Linked DNA regions of Homo sapiens: region 2 is linked to region 1. The links come from fine-mapping of genetic effects on gene expression. A gene starts in region 1. The other region holds a variant in brackets. All regions are shown on one strand. Distances are from middle to middle. Region 1 holds the start of GPX3 (glutathione peroxidase 3). Region 2 overlaps TNIP1 (TNFAIP3 interacting protein 1).

The links. PIP is the estimated chance that this variant, and not a neighbour inherited with it, causes the effect.
Region 2: its variant is fine-mapped to the expression of GPX3 in whole blood (INTERVAL, PIP 0.92).

Annotation. Positions count from the first base shown.
Region 1 is chr5:151,017,008-151,026,207 of GRCh38, forward strand. It overlaps GPX3 (glutathione peroxidase 3), which reads left to right and starts at 3,584. Exons shown (of 5, transcript NM_002084.5): 1 at 3,584-3,734; 2 at 8,333-8,486. The coding sequence starts at 3,648. RefSeq lists an enhancer at 5,029-6,228.
Region 2 is chr5:151,050,804-151,058,803 of GRCh38, forward strand. It overlaps TNIP1 (TNFAIP3 interacting protein 1), which reads right to left. Exons shown (of 18, transcript NM_006058.5): 6 at 5,963-6,154; 7 at 1,362-1,456. Among named protein-coding and RNA genes, the nearest start is that of TNIP1, 26 kb to the right of the region's middle. RefSeq lists an enhancer at 5,502-6,028. The variant T/C (reference allele first, on the strand shown) is at 3,083.

The DNA of each region.
Region 1 (9,200 bases):
TTAGAGTGGCTGATCCCATCTTTGAGTTCAGAACCTGAAATGTTTACTAACCAATAATAAGGCTGGCTTTCGTTGTTTTAACTTTTTACAATCCTTTGAGTTTATTAATTTGTGTTCTATCTTCCTTGAAGACACAGTGCATCAGCACTTTTTGTAAAACCTCTTTTTAAGTCATCTTCGGTCTCTGTTCACCTACCAAGTAGGTAAGTAGTGAGCTCCCTATAGAGGTCTCTAAAAAATAGGATGAAGAGGTTCCGAGTGCTCACTTGTCTGGAATGCGGAAGACGTGTTCTCAGACTGGAAGCAAAACTAGCTTATGATTCTTCTACAGCTTCTCCTTCCATCCCTCCCTTCCCATTTTGGCCAATGCAAATCATCTACTCTCCTCTGACAAGCCTACTCATCATAACCCGCACGTCTTGAATCTTCCTAGAAGATGAAATCAGACCAGTCTTGCGGGCTCTACATGGTTACAACTTGCTAACTTGAAGCTCTCCTTATTCTATATGCCAAATATTGTTTTCCTTGACATTAATTTATTTGATAGATATGTATCAAGCAACTACTATGTATTAAGCTCTGTGCTGGTGCTGGTGCCTTTTTGGATCTTATAATTTAGTGCAGAAAATAGACAAACAAGAAATGATGATAAAGTACAACAAAGGGTCGATGTACAAAGTGTCAAATACTCTAGGAACTACAGGAAAACAAGGGAACCATCACGAAACCCCTGTCTTAAGACGTGACATTAGTGGAGATATGAAAAATGAGTAGGATAGTACCAGTTAAAGGGAGACAACCTCTGTTCCAAGCACAGGGAACAGCAGAGATGAAACCTGGAAGTGAGGGAGAATGGCAGACTGCAAGAACGGAAAAATGTCCAGTGTAGCGGAGGCAGAGAGAATATGGAGAGTGTGGCAAAAGAGGAAGAAGCAGATGGATTTTGAGGGCACTTTCTGAAGTGCTAAGGAATTTAGACTTTAACCTGAGGGCAATCAGAAGCAGCCTGGTGGAGAACGATATATTTCAAAACATAGGGTCCTTGAAAACAAGTCAACCAAATGTATTTAAAAGGCTGCTGATGAAAAGATTGGGAAGTATTGTTTTCATTCTCATTGTTTTCACTGTCATGCTCTTTGTGCCAATGGTTAGACCTCCTTTGAAAGCTCACTGCAGCATGAAAGCCCTTCTTAATGCCAGGGCAGGCTCCCCAAGCCTCCCCACCCCACTGTCCATGTCATCAGTTTTGTACTCCTGTTTTGTATGGCTCAGGCTTTCCTTATACTCTTAGGAATGAAAAGCCACAGACACCACCACTGAGAGACTGTCAAAGATCCTTGTTAAATAGGTGGACAACTGAGATCAGAGAAGGAAAGTAATTTTATTACTTTCCGTAGCAATCCAGGGGTAGCATCTCAGGTCTCTGGCTCCTTCTTGTCTCCCCTAAAGAAATAGACCACCAGGGCTGGGATTAAGGTGAGACAAGTGAGACATAGAGGGTGCAAAATGTAGAGAGATGCCCGCTGCCAGGTGCCAGCCTGCACTTGTGTGACCCTAGGTGCCTTCCCTTCCCTCACCCTGCTGGTATCTGCTGGAAACACCTTTGAGAGCAGGGACTTTGGCTTTTAGACAACTCTTTAGCATCTCTCATGGTGTTAACATGTTGCTAGGTGCCTATTTTGAGGGTCACTAGATGCCTACTGATACTAATGAACAATGGATTTCTGACAAACTGATGTGCACACAGATGTTTATATTTTAGGGTAAATACGAACCTTAAAAGACAACAGAACAACATGGAGAGGGCCTGAGACTGAGTCTAGAGACCTGGATTCTGGTTCCCTCCCTGCCATCAGTTGGTTATGGGAACTTGGATAAATTGCTCCTCATCTCTAGGCTTCAGGGAAATGAGGTGGTTGAATAAAACGTATTGAGCACTTACTGTGTGTCAGCCATTGTTCATATGCTCCCAGGCTTTAACTCAGCTAAAGACTTCCTGGCCTCTGTGGTTCCTTCCACTTCAACAGGCTGTGGTTTGAGGTGGGAAGACTTCGTAGAGAATGCAAAACTTGAGAGACATCTTCCAAATTCCCAGGGGGATGTTAATACCTTTAATCATAGTAAAGGTATGGTTTCTCAAGGCATTTCTTGGTCAGAAGAAAGTTCCAGAAGGCACTTAATCCTAGGACTCACACTACCAAGGCTACAGCCAGGCCAACTGCCTCACAATAACCTTAGAACATGTCTGAAGACAGATTTTCAGCTTCTGCCCCTAGAGATTCTAATGCAGTGATTCCAAAGTGGGGTCCAGGAATCTGTATTAAAGGCTTCCCAGTTGACTCTGGTGGTCAGAGAGATTTGAGACTGATTCCATCACATTCCCCATCTGTGAACGGGATCATACCTAGACAGCCCAGCCCTAGAACTGCCTGGTCTGATCCTAAGTGTTCCATGGAGATTTTGTTTTTTTAATGTAATGAATGATTAAGTCAGCAAATACTTTACATCTCTTGTGTGCTAGGCCCTGTGCCAGGTGGTGATTATGGGCCCTATTCTCAAAGGACTCCTGGTCTCCGTCTGTCACTTACTTTAGAAACAAGTCATCTAGCCAGAGCCAGAAGGGCACTGGAGATCACTAATCAATCCCATCATTACATAGCTGAGGAAACTGAGGCCCAGAGAGTAACTGCAACATGTTAAAGACTACACAGGGAGCAAATTTATTTTCTGCTTCTAAGCCAGGTGGTTTGGCCACAGATAGGCCAAGAAGAATACGAACAGACAAGCCTTGCTGGGTTTCCCACTCAGTTTATTACTATTAGACCATTCCCTTTTTCCCCACTCACATTTCTGCGCATTTCCATGGTCTTCATAGAATCTAAGCCTAAAAATAGAGTTTTCCTTGAGTCTTTGGGTCTTCATTTCTGAAGACTCTCATGTCACAGAAAACTTTAATTAAATAAATCGTTATGCTTTTCTCTTGCTAACCTTTTTCTACAGGCATGTCAGCTGTGATCCTTATGATGGGGAGGAAAGGCACCCCACCTTCTCTGTCCCTACAGTCCTAATGCCCTACCCAGAATGGGGTTTTCAAAATCCCAGGACACCCACTCTTTGTTTCTTAAGCACTAAACCTATATATAGTAAATGTTTCTGGAAGTTTAACTTCAGCTCTTGCTGAAATTTTAAACCCTCAATTTCCAGAGGACCATCGCCAGGTGTTTTTAAAACCTCGATAGGAATAAGAAATGCTTCCCAGAATGGAGACTTCCATCAGTTCTAGGGAGCTATTAGCCCCCTTGCCCTGGCTGTAATGGAGACCGCTGTGTCTGCCTCCTTTCGCACTTTGGAGCCAAAAGAGGAAGGGACCGCCTCCCACGTCCACAGGGACCTGACTTCCACCTCTCTGCCCAGATTTGCTTATGTCACTGTCGCCCCGGGACGGGGAGGTGGGGAGCTGAGGGCAAGTCGCGCCCGCCCCTGAAATCCCAGCCGCCTAGCGATTGGCTGCAAGGGTCTCGGCTTGGCCGCGGATTGGTCACACCCGAGGGCTTGAAAGGTGGCTGGGAGCGCCGGACACCTCAGACGGACGGTGGCCAGGGATCAGGCAGCGGCTCAGGCGACCCTGAGTGTGCCCCCACCCCGCCATGGCCCGGCTGCTGCAGGCGTCCTGCCTGCTTTCCCTGCTCCTGGCCGGCTTCGTCTCGCAGAGCCGGGGACAAGAGAAGTCGAAGGTGAGTGAGCCTCCGGGCCGGGGGCCGGGAGAAAAAACCTAGCCCCTCGGTGTCCAGCGCTCAGTGCAATGCACCCCTTTTCCCAGGCTCCCCGCCAGATGGGCAATCCCCAGGTGCGAGAGACCTCCTGAACCCCTTTTGCCGCCCCCTCCGCCGCCGGGACCCCGCCCCCGACCGTCGTCGTCTCGTAGTTCCATCTGTTGGAGAGCCGAGACCTGGTGCTTCAGGCGGGCAGAATGACTAAGGGAGGAAGGTCTCTCTCCCCGAGCTCGCACTTTCTCCCCACTGCCACCTCGAGGGTCGCCTTGCTACATCTATGTCACCTCCGTGCCTGAGCTGCTCCCCTTCAGTAGGGCCTAAGAGGGAGGGCGTCACAGAAAAAAATGCCCAGCGTCTGGGTGGGCTGTGCAAGTTCCCAGGGAGAGAGACAAGGAGAAAGGAGAGAGGCAGCTGGGTGGTCCTGGTCCTGAAGAACTGCTGTGGGGGGCTCTTCTACCCCAAGAATGATACAGGCAGGTAGAAATGGCCACTTGGATTCAGGGCATTGGTAGAAGAGGCAGAGATCTGTGCTAGAAAGAGCTCTGGAGTGACAGTGCAGAACACTCAGGACCCTGAGTCCTTACCTGCTCCTGGACCCCCGTTTCTCCATCTGCAGGGGAGAGTTTGGGGGTGGGAGTGCATGGGGCACAATGAAGCTGAGGGCCTCAGAGGGGATGCTTGGAGAAGCTGAAAAATCCACAAGCTGTTCTCTGAAATTTCCTCCCCTGGGGCAGCCTCACTACCCAGGACCCACTGTCCTCATTAGCCTGAGGAAACCTGGTAGTTGGAGAAAGCTGGGGACTGCTAATTCAGAAGAAGAGGTAGAATTCTCTAGAGCCTCAGTCTATTTCCAGCAGGTGTGTGGCCCACACCTGGAGTGGGGATACTGAGGCCAGGAGTGGGATGACCCAGCATGCTTATCTCCTTTGACAGTATGTACTGGGGTGGGCTCTGTAGACCTCTCCTCTACCCAGGGAGTGGGAGTGGGTGGGGAAGGAGGCAGAAGCCAGGTGTAGGGATAGACTCAAAGCGAGCGATTTCTGTCTCCAACTTCCCAACATGCATAACTCACATTTTTGCAAGCTCTGAGCTTTTGTTTCTAAAATCCTCTGGGTCTTCACTTTAATTAAGTTCTTATGAGTCTAGGATTCCGTTTCCAAAATTCTGTCCACTTCTCAGGAAGCCCATTGGAAGCACAGGGTTCCTTCCATGTTACTCACCCCTTTTCGGTCCTCAGCCTAAATCCGATTAATCAGCCTCTCCTTGGAGTCAGTCTAAATGGATGTGAAGCCACTTCGTCCAAGTCCCCTCCTTTTTATCCATCCCTGTTCATAATCCCCAACTCAGAAGGCATTTTCCAGGTCAGGAATGGGATCGATTTTCAACATTGAGGTTTGGGGTGGGCCATAGACAGGCCAGCACCGTGGAGTCAGTCCCAACCTTCAGTTTTGGAAAGGTCAAAGAAGATACAATTGGGCCCTGCCTCAAGAAGGCTAGTGGGGAGAACGTGGACTCCATGAATAACTCATCATAGCTGTGTCTTCTCTGCAGCACTCTGGGGAAGGATAAATGGACTCAGAGAGAATAGGATGGGGATGGTCTAGAAAAGTTTTAGGGTGAGGTGTGATCATATCACATACAACCAGTCAGGACTTGCTGGCTAATGAAAGCCTGGGCATGCCCATCTCTGCTCCCAAGTTCTTAGAGTTCAGATGTCTTAGCTCTGGGTTAGGACCCAACCACTCACCTTACCCCCAACCCCAGGGTAAAGAGATAGGGTTATGGGGCATGTGGAGAATGGAATGGACGAAAGGTGACTCAGCCCCAGAGAGGTGTTTTCCTCCTACCAATTGAAAGGGAGATGCTAGGGAAGAGACCAGGTCCTCCTCTTCTTGCTGCGTCACCTCCCCAGTCCAACTTCAGGCTGCCCACGCTCCTTGTCTCTACAAAAGGACTGCAGAAGCCGGAAAGAGTGACAACTGCTGACGTGCACGGGATCCTAGTAACTGCTGGTTTCTAGGTGACTAAACCTGGCAGAGAGAATCATGGAACCACAGGCTGACAGAGTTAAAGGGCCCTTAAGACAGCCCTGAACCTGACTCCATCTTACAATGGAGGAGCTGGAGCCCCAGCAAAGGGGGTCACATGGCATCAGAGACACAGCAAAGCCCAGCACTCAGGTCTCCTGACTCCCAGACCACTTCTCACAGCATCATATTGATAGGAGTAATAAGACGGGAGAGGAGAAAGACACAAGACCAGCAGCCCCAGCCAGCCAGAGTCCTGGCTGAGTCCCATCATCCAACTCTCAAGCCATTGGAACCCTCTTCTCTTGCCCGGCTGTGGGAGGATTCAGGCACCCTCATGGCCTCTCCCCTTATCTCCTCTGGCCACTGTTTCAGATGCGGTGCTCTGGGATTCCACGTGCCCAGAGAAGGGAAGGGGGCTCATAGAGGACTGAGTTGCAGTGATCAGTGGTGAGCACAGCCGTGGCTCTCCACCCATGGGCCACCTTCTGACCCCCACTATCCCTTGACATGAGATTTCGTTCCAAGAGACTCCAGGCCTGTTTTGCTCTGCCAGCAGATTCCCACAACCATTTTGGGCAGCAGCATGCTTATCTCCCTGGACATATGCCCAGACAGTGTAAGTGACTTGCTCAGGGCCACACAGCCAGCAAAAAATAGAACCTAATGAAATAGGGTTCTCCTTGCCACACCCCCAAGCTGAAACTGTGCCCAGAAGCTGGTCCTTCTGTTTACAAGTTCCCATTATTAGGACAACCTGTAATCTTTTTTTCCTCCATGTCTCAGAGTTCATTTTTGGATCATGGCAGAGTTAAAAAAGTGGAGAGGCTATAGACATGCCTGGCTTTCTGGCCACTAGATCTTTGTGGCGGTCTAGGGTGTATTTGTTGTGCCCCAGTTTGTCTGCATTTTAAGGCGGAACTGGCCCTGGCTGGGAACGAGGAGGTCCAGGAGCAGTAGGAATGTTGATCTTAGGTCTTGGGCCTGCCTCCAGCACCCACCAAAAGTCACCGGATGTGGAATATTAGACTCATGTAAAGCAGGAAGTTTGCACCAGAGCCAAGAAGAGAGCTTGCAGCTGCCAGGGAATGGCCTGGCGGAGGAAGCGCAGCCTCGCCCAGCTCAGCAGACCTGCTTCATGACAGAGGCAGCTCTTCTGCACTCTACTGGGGCCACGCCCTGCCAGCATATATCACTCCCTTCACCTGGTCAGGCCCAGGTACCTTGCCTCAACAGCAAGTTCTCCAGAATTGAGGGGAAGAGAGGGAGTGAATTTGCTTCTCTAACTCCAGCCACCTGTCTCTGCCCTCTCCTGGTCTATAATGCTACTTTGCATTCCATTTGTTTATTGTCTGCCCACCTCTCAAAGGATATCAGGGCCACAAAGGACCTTAAAGACCACCTTATACAATGGTTTCAAGGTTTCTCCTTTCCCATCACGACCAGCCCACCTGCCAAATTGTGTCAATGATGCAATGACATCCTTTCAAGAATAGTCTCAGAATTTTGTTGTCTGTGTCACGGGCAGAGTAGGCTCATAGGCCACATCCTACTAGCCAGCAGTGACCCCAATCCCCTCTCTCCCACTGATCATGATCCTATCAAGCCATCATGGTTGACCTGGTTGGAGAGTTGGTTCAGTTCAAGGTTCTCATTTTATAAATGAGGAAACTCAGGTCCGAAGAAAAGAAAGGGCCAGTCCAAGACCACACAGGGAGTTAATGGCAAAGGGACATGGAGCCCAGGTCTCCCAGCCCACAGTCCACTGCACTCTGTCCCTCCTTGTCCTGGAGGCTGACTGTGAGCAGCAGCTGGGGAGGGAGGAAGGCATAAGGGTCATCACCAGCCTGCTCAGACCCGGAACATTAACACATGCAGGTACTGTTGCTTTTCCCTACCTCACCACAGCCCTTTCCCCCATGCCTGGCTCTCAGTCCTGCTTCCCTATTTGGTAACAACAGCTTCATCTTTCCTGTCCTGCAGATTGGGAGCCTCTGAATCACCATGTCCATACGGCCTCTTCCTCCTTTCTGTTCAGTTTTTCCTTCACACTGGCCTAGTTCAGGTTCTCATCCTCAATTGCCTGGATTATTCCAACAGCCACCCAACCAGTCTCCATCAGCCCGTCTAGGAACCCAGTCATCAGCTTTAGGGCAGTCTCCCTGAGAGCCCAGTAAATGTTCTGAAATTGACATGTGATGTGGAAGTAATTAGCAAAATAAGTCATTCTCCAGGGTTCCATAGCACTCACTTATTAAGTGCTTAATATTAATAAGTGCTTATTAGGTGCTTAATATTAATAAGTGCTTTTTAAGCACTTAATATTAAGTACCCGAAAAGCACTTATTAAGTGCTTTCATAATCATTATCTTAAACAAGGAATTAGGAGACGTCAGTGCTAGTCCAGTTCCAATTCTCGGTGATTACTTTGAGAAAGTCACTCTCTCTGTTGGGATCTTTCATTCTTTTGAAAACGGAGATGTCCAAGTTCCTTTCCAGCTCTAACTGCTCCTTTTATGGCCTGTGTTCCAGATGGACTGCCATGGTGGCATAAGTGGCACCATTTACGAGTACGGAGCCCTCACCATTGATGGGGAGGAGTACATCCCCTTCAAGCAGTATGCTGGCAAATACGTCCTCTTTGTCAACGTGGCCAGCTACTGAGGCCTGACGGGCCAGTACATTGGTAAGAGCCCACCCTTCCTCCCTGCTTTATTTGGGGCTGTATGGCATATTTCAATCACAGGAGCTTTTCTGGTGCATGGGGGAAAGGGTGATGGCAATCACGAGAGTCCAAGCCCCTTTTCTCAGCTCCACTGTGTTCCGTGGTTTTGTGAAGATGATTATATAAGCCTGAGGTCTGATTGCCTTTGGACATGTTCTAGGAGATTCCTAGTTATCCTTCTTCATCTCTGGGCACCTCAACAACCCTAAAGGCAGAGGGATAGAGATTAGGTTTGTGCTTAGAGCTCCCTTTGGCTGGAGCATGAGATGGTAACTGAAGCTCCATCTTGCTGAGAATATCTTATTTTCCCTCAGCCCCATCTGCTTTGGTGCTTCTCTTGGCAGCTCTCTGGAAAGCAGGCAATTGCCTCGAGGCCCCAGAGTGTATGCGTGGTGTAGCGGGATGAAGGAGCAGGCTACACTTCTAATGCCCATTCTAAAATAAACTTTGAAGATGATCTAGTTTAGCCTTCCCCTCTTCTCAATCTACACATGGGAAACCAAGACTCAGAGCGAAGATACAACTTAAACAGGGTCACAAAGCTATTAGCGGTGGAATGGGGCATTTGGCGCAGGTTTCATGATCTCCTGATATGCTTACTCCTTTCTCCCTAGCTGGGGTAGAATACAGAGGCTAGGGGAACAGGCAACCAAAGGCAAGCGACAGCACCCAGGG
Region 2 (8,000 bases), 33 kb after region 1:
CTACAGGCACACCACCACACCCAGCTAATTTTTTTGGTATTTTTTGTTGGGGCTGGGGGAGGGGTGGTGATGTATTTCACCAGGCTGGTCTCAAACTCATGGACTCAAAGCAATCCTCCCGCCTTAACGTCCCAAAGTGCTGGGATTACAGGTGTGAGCCACAACGCCCAACCACCACTTCTTTATGTTCTATTTGCCAGCTGAGTTTCCGCTTGAAAAACCAATAAGTAAAATGACTTTCCCAAGGTCATACAGCAGAGACTTGCATTCTTGCCTTCTAATCCGTGACTTTTTTCCCCAGCTTCAGTTTCTGAATCCATGGATGGGGTCACTAGGGCTATAAAAACCCCAAAAGTGCATCCTTGGCCATCCAAAAGCAAATAAATTACACACTGATTCAAAATAGCCAGTGGCTCAGTAGTTAAACATTACTTCTGTGGCCATACTTACAAAGTTTATATTCCTTCTCTTTCTGTTGATTCTAATAAGAAACAGGAGAGGAGGGAAAAACAGAGTGGCAAGTCCTGTCTGTGACACGGGCCTTTCCTATGTGCCTGAGCCCAGCTGGTACCCACCAGATGACTCATCACCCAAACTGTCCAGGACCACAGTGCAGGCAGGAATTGTGGCCACTCACAGGATGGAGAGCAAGGAGGCCCAAGTTCCTGTTGTAAGACTCCAATCAAGTCCCTGCCTCTCCCTGGGCCTCAGTTTCCCCTCTGCACAGTGAGAGGTCTGTCTGCATGATCTCCAAGGGCTTGTCAAGCTCTGACAGTCAAGATCAGTGTTTCCCAAGGCGTGATCCTGTGCCTACCTCGTTCATAATCACAGAGACTCCTGGTGAAATGCAGGCTCCTAGGTCTTGCCTAAGACCTGTCAATTCAGAATCTTGCAAAGGAAGGAAGGGAAGGCGTATAAACTTGTAATGCCTTTCCCTGACCCTCAACCCTCAGTTAAGTCTAAGCCCCCTAGTCCAGTGGGGGAGCTCTCATGTTCTCAGGAAGACAGAGCAGGTTGGGATGGTGACCAGCAGGAGGCAGCAAAGTCCTGAGTCCTCTGGACAGCCAGTTCACCGTTAACAGGGGAGAGAGGCAAGTGCTGGAGGAGGAAGGAAGTACAATCTATGCTGACCTTCTTCTGAAGCTCTCAAGGCACTCTATACACCTCCCAAGGTGGCAAAAGGGCCAGAGAGAAAATACCAAAAGAGCCAAGGAGAAGGATCAAGAGACGTAACCTCCAAATAGGGCTCTGGGCACAGGGCCTCAGAGCCACGGTCCTCAACCCAGAAATCAGTGCTGCACACCAGCCCCTCCTCCTGCAGCCCCCACTCCTCACCCCTTCTCTGAGGGGCCTGAACTTACCGCAGCCTCTCGGCAGCCTGATCCCGCTGTTCCAGGCCCTTATCCAACTTGGCCTTCAGAGCCTCGTTCTCCTTCCGAAGCTGCTCACACAGGGTCTGTGGGGCAGGGGAACAGACAGGGTGAGGGAAAGGAGGGGCCCCTCCCAGGTGCAGGCTGAGCTAGAGGATGGTGGGGGGCCTGTAGCCACCCCAGGGCCCAACTCCTTATCCCCTTTGCCTGGCCTCACCCCATCCCTCTCTAAGGAGCTAAGCCACTTGGCCACCCACGTGTCCTCTCCCTTGGGAGCCAACTACGGAGAAGCCTGACCAAGTATCAGCCATGGGGCCTTCTGCTCCTCCAAGACAGACAGCTCCATCCCTTCTCCTTCATCCCTGCTCCCACTGCCGGGACCCCTATTCCCCACCAGCCTCCCCCAGCTGACTTCTACCCTTCTTTGAAGTCTTAGTTTAAATCCCATCTCCTCAGAGAAGTCCTCCCTGACTCCCCGATCCAGCTACATTAGGCTAACTCCGTTATCCTTGCTCACAGCCCCCCGCTTTTACGCTTCTCAGCACCTGTGGCAGATAAAGCTAAAGAACTGTTCGTGCTGCTGTTTTCTTAATATCTACCCCCTTACCCCTAATTAATTCCTGAGCTCCCGGAGGGCTGGGACCCCTAACCATCCTCTTGTTCACTGCCAGATCCCCAGCCCCCAGCTCAAAGTTTGTGGAAGGAACAACATGACTGAACAGCCAAATGAGCAAATGGACAAATGAGCAGGCGAGTCCTAGGGGGGCTGAAAGGCACACCAATTTGCAGGTGTGAGAGGTGCCCAGTGTTGCCAAGGGGAAAACCAGAAGACAAGGCATTCAGTCGGGACCTCACTATGCCCTCACGCCCTCACAATGTGGCTGTGACACTTGGTTCCTCCTCTACAAAAGAAAGACAACTGTTTCTCTTTTTTTTTTTTTTTTTTTTTTTTTTAAGACAGAGTCTCACTCTGTTGCCCAGGCTGGACTGCAGTAGCATGATCTCAGCTCACTGCAACCTCCACCTCCCAGGTTCAAGAGATTCTCCTGCCTCAGCCTCCTGAGTAGCTGGAACTACAGGTGTGTGCCACCATGCCTGGCTAATTTTTGTATTTTCAGTACAGACGGGGTTTCACCATGTTGGCCAGGCTGGTATCAAACTCCTGACCTCAAGTGATCCACCTGCCTCAGTCTCCCAAAGTGCTGGGATTACAGGCATGAGCCACCACACCTAGCCCAGGGACAACTGTTTCTTCTCTGCCTCCTCTATAGGGCTGCTGAGAGGGACAGATGAGACAGTGAGAGTGGAAGTGTCCATGAACCATCAGTCACTTGCTTATGTGCGGGGACTCATATTGGAAGCTCTGTGAACTGGGGGCATGGAAGAGGGGTCGCCAGACTCAGGACCTCACAGGCTGGGGGGAAGGGAAGGTGCTGACTAGCAATGCTAGCATACAGTGTCAGCACAGAGTTGTTCAATCTTTCCACAGATCCTCACTGAGCACCTCACCTGTGCCAGGTACATTGCTCGGTGTTTCTCCATATACTGCCTCACTGGTGCCTCACAACTTCCTCAAAGCTAAGTAACTCATCTCTATGTTAAAGGTAGGGAAACCAGGTAAAATGATACAGTCTAACAGGTGCACAGCTGCTAAGACTCATCACTGGCGGGGAGTAAAACTCCAATTGGCAGACCCCACACTGGTGTCTCTT[T/C]CCCCTGTGATGAAAGATCAGAGAAGGGAGAGAGATGGTGCCCAAAGGAGGGGACAGCCTTTGAGCTGGGCCAGGACCAGGGCCATTCACTAAACAGCCATCTGCTGCCTTCCACCTCCCAGGCCTGTTGCAGGTGGATGCAACCATGTGACTAGTTCTGGCCAACAAAAGAGGTGTAGAAGGGACAAGCATCACTCCTGGACTGGCCTACGCACAATTCTCCAGTCTCTTTTTCCTGGTAGCAGGGGCTGATGTGGATGCCTCGTATTCTAAAGGGCACCGGAAAGTTGGGCCCCTGTCTCCCTGGGACTCTAAGGAACTGTGTAGAGCAGAAACAAACCCCTGCCACACAGAATAGGAGGGAAAACTTTTGTTGTGTAACCCAGGGAGATTTCAGAGTTGTTTCATTTCTGACTCACAAAGGAGACTCTTGGGAAGGCTGAATGGAGGACACAGCCTTCAACTGGAGGTGGCTGGACAATGAGGGAGATGAGGCTTAGCAAACAGAGAACCAGCTGGGCATGGTGGCTCACACCAGTAATCCCAGCACTTTGGGAGGCTGAGGCAGGAGGATCACTTGAGCCCAGGAGTTCAACACCAGTCTGGGCAACATGGCAAAACCCTGTCTCTACTAAAAATACCAAAAAATTGGCCAGGCATAAGGGCGCATGCATGTAGTCTCAGCTATTCAGGGAACTGAGGTGGGAGAACTGAGCCCAGGAGGTCAAGGCTGTAGTGAGCTGTGGTCGCACCACTGCACTCCAGCCTGGGTGGCGGAGCAAGACCCTGTCCCCCAACACCCCTTAAAAAAAAGAAATCAAAAAATTATTGTTATGAGTCCATTCAATGCCTAGCAGAGAGCCTTATGCTATACCTGACCTTGAATATGTTTGTTTAGTGAACCAAGAAACACATCAGTGAATGAATGAGGAGGAACTGGATCAATACACCTCCACCCAGGCAGTAAAAATACCCAAGATGCCATGTCTCTGGGCGAGGCCTCCAGGGAACAGAATGGCCTGCTCCTAGTCCCTAAGGGAAGGCCAGGACAAGGCCTCACTTGCTGTCCTACCCTTGCAGTCTAGAGAGCTGTTTCCTTGGAGTCTCTGGGCCAATGCCCTGGGTGCAAACCGGCCAATGGATAGAATCATCAGAGGTCACAAAGATCATCACCTTCCATCCAAGGTGCTACGAGAGCTATGAGTTCATTTGATCATTTATTATTTTGTCCTTTCATTCATTCACCAAGTGTGTATGAAGTGCCACGAACTGGGACGCAACAGTGAATACAACAGACATGGTGCCTGCCCCCCTCAAGCTTACCTTCTAGCAGAGAGTATAAGAAAAAAAAGAGTATAAGAAAAAATGTATTAAATAAAATTATTACAAACTATGATAAGAGCTAAGAAGGAAATAAACAAGGAGGGGACTGAAATAAAAAATAACAGAGGTTGGCAGGACCCCTTTTAAGGGGCCTAGGATCTATCCCCATCTCAAAGCTGAAAAGTGGATGCGCAAAGTGCTCTCACCCCAGGCACCTTCCTACCCTGCCCACAGCCTAGGCACTGTGCCAGGCTCACCTTGCCAGGGTTCAGCCTGGATACCTTGAAGCCTCACTGACATCTTAAAGGGGTTCCCTTCTCTCAGCCTGGCTCTCCAGGCCTCTGCCTCTCGTTCAGCCTCACCTCCCAACACACCCCTCCCCTCCAGGTGGGATGGGCATCCTCCGTGCTCCTCTACCCCCACACCTCTCCTCATACTGCATCTCCAACCTGATTGCCCTTCATGCCCTCGGCAACCAAGGTCACGCAAGGGGGACTCCCCCTTCTGCCATCAGCGGGGCACTTGAGTGCCTGCTGACATGAATGAGACCACAGATCAGAGAATGGCCTGGGAGGAGAGTCTGCAGGGAGTAAGGAGGCTTCAAGTCATGGCTCTGTCACTAAGGTGGCGGGCACTCAGATCACGAGCAGTCCCTCAGAAGCCTCCGTTTTGCCATCTTTAGAATGGTCACCAATTATAACTGAACACTTCCCCGCTGCTAAAGCCCACAAGGCTAAGACCCCCTGCCCAGTGTGGATGCCCGTCATGAACTCCGAATGGGGACCTCTCTTCCAGCATGGACTAGGTTCTGGACTGCACTGGGTGCTTCATGTACATGGCCTCATTTAATGCAGCAATCTAACCATGGAGGCACTTCTAGCTCATGTTACTGATAGGAACATTGGGGGATAGAGAGGATAAGTGACTTGTCCAAGGTCATACAGCAATAAAGGGTCACTACTGGAACCAAGGACCATATAACTCCAAGGTCTGGCCTGGCCTAGCAAGGAAATCTGTCCATTCCCCACAGCACAGGGAGGCTTTCAAAAGGAATTCAATAGGGGAGGCAGGTTGGGATGGTGGTCAAGAGTATGGGCTTTGGAATGCGAGAGATCGAGGTTCCAATCCCTACTTCACCATTTACCAGCTGGGTGACCTTGGGCAAAAAAAGGGCTGCTTCCCCACCTGTGAAGTGGTGATAATGAGGGTGCCTACCCTGGGGGGAAAGAGGCATTATGAAAGGAGTTGACCTTTGTTCCCTCCCTTCCCATCCCCCAACCCTGCACATGAGAAATAAAGGCAGGGCTGCTGGGGGTATCCCCAACCATGACACTCGCATTGCCCATCCCGTATTTCCCCATTTCCTTCCTCTTCCTCATCCCTCCCCACAACTTCCTTATCCTGTTCATCACCCTGAACAAAAAGCCCGAAGTCTGCCCACAACACAGCCTTCAGAAGTCCCCATGGTACCAGTGGATTCCCAGGAGCAGGAAGGTGGGAAGAGCTCGGGGGGAAGCACGCCTGCCTGTCTCGGGCTGCCCTCCCCACGCGCCTCACCTGCAGAATGGAGGTGCGCTGCTCATTCTTGTGCACCTTGGATGCCAGTCGGTTGAACTCCAGGGCCATGCGGCCCAGGTGGGTGAAGAGCTGGCCGTGGTCCGGCTCCTCGGCACACACACTCAGCGTGGTCTCCAGGCGCTGCAGGTGCAGCATCAGGTTGCCGTCCTCACGGGGCAGGGGGCCCAGCGCCTGGAGAGGGAAAGGGCACACGGCCCACTCTTCACCAAGGCCTGAGTAGGCGCCGCCAGTCCATTCTCCCTCTGCTTCCTCATTTCTCATGACTCAGTTTCCCCCTGTGACCCCAGCTCAGCCCCGGGAAATTCTCCAGTTATGCAGGTTCCCTGTCTGGGGCTGACTCACAGGGCAGAACCCAGGACTCACAGGCCACTGGTGGCTCCACAGCAGCGGGGCCACCATCCTCCCACACACTGGGCCTTGCAGAGTGCCTGACAGTAAGTCACTTGTCTGCTGGACCTCAGCATCCTCATCTACCAAATGTCCGCACAACCCTTCCCTCCCTTCAACCTCACAGGGTTCTTAGGAGGATGAATTGACCCCTGACAGTAACAAGCCCAGAAAAGGGACATCACTGCACAGTCAGCCCTCCATATCCATGGGTTCCGCATCCATGGATTCAACCAACTGCAGATCAAAAATCTTCTAAAAAAACAAACTGGCCGGGCGCGATGGCTCACGCCTGTAATCCCACCACTTTGGGAGGCTGAGCGGGCAGATCACAAGGTCAGGAGATCAAGACGGCCTGAGTGGTGAAACCCTGTCTCTACTAAAAATACAAAAATTAGCTGGGCATGGTGGCACGTGCCTGTAATCCCAGCTACTTGGGAGGCTGAGGCAGGAGAACTATTTGAACCAGGGAGTCGGAGGTTGCAGTGAGCAGAGATCGCACCACAGCACTCCAGCCTGGGCAACAGAGCAAGATTCCGTCCCAAAACAAACAAACAAAAAACTGTATTGAACATGTACAGAATTTTTTTCTTGTCATTATTCCCTAAACAATACAGTATACCAAAATTTAGCATTTACATTGTATTAGGTATCGTAAGTAATCTAGAGATGATTTAAAGTATATAGGAGGATGTGTATAGGTTATAGGGAACTACTACGCCATTTTACATCAGGGACTTGAGCATCCATGGATTTTGGGTATCCTCAGGGAGTTCTGGAACCACTCTCCCATGTTTACCAAGGGACATCTGCATATACGTCCTGCAACCTCCGCCTCCTGGGTTCAAGCGATTCTCCTGCCTCAGGCTCCTGAGGAGCTGGGATTACAGGTGTGCACCACTACACCAAGCTAATTTTTGTATTTTTAGTTGAGACGGGGTTTCACCACAATGGCCAGGCTGGTCTTGAACTCCTGACCTCAGGTGATCCACCCACCTCGGCCTCCCAAAGTACTGAGATTACAGGCGTAAGCCACCATGCCTGGCCTACACATGTGTCTTCTGGGGAATGGCCCAAGCATTCATCAGCTTCTGAGGACCCAAGACTCAAAACAGTTTAAGGAACCACAGCTTTAGCTATTTCAGAAAGTCCCAAACTAGTACAGTATGTAAGAAATAAAGCACACCGTGGGCCAGATAGTTGACTCTTTCTCTCTAGTCTATCTGGAATACTCCTACCAAAGACATTGCCTTTGTTACACCAATTCCACTCCCAAGGACCTGCAGTGTTACCCTACTGCAGACGGCACTGGGCCCAGCTCCCCTGCTGGGCATCTAAGGCCCTACAGCCGCAGGTCCCATCCACAGCAGCATCCAGTTGGGCTCCCCACTTTACCCTGCCTGAACCCACACACACCAGGTCTGGTGTCTCTGCATGTGTCCTCTCTGTGTCCTCTCTGCCTCTGCAAGTTCTGCTCATCCTTCCCACCCTGTCCACGGCTCAGCTCCTCCAGCAGCCTCCCGGAAACAGTTATGGGAATCACAGGACAGCAGAGCTACAGGGAGCCTCAGAGATCAGGCCGGGAAACCAAGCTATGGGGAGGAGGAACTTGCCCAAAGTTGCCCTGTAA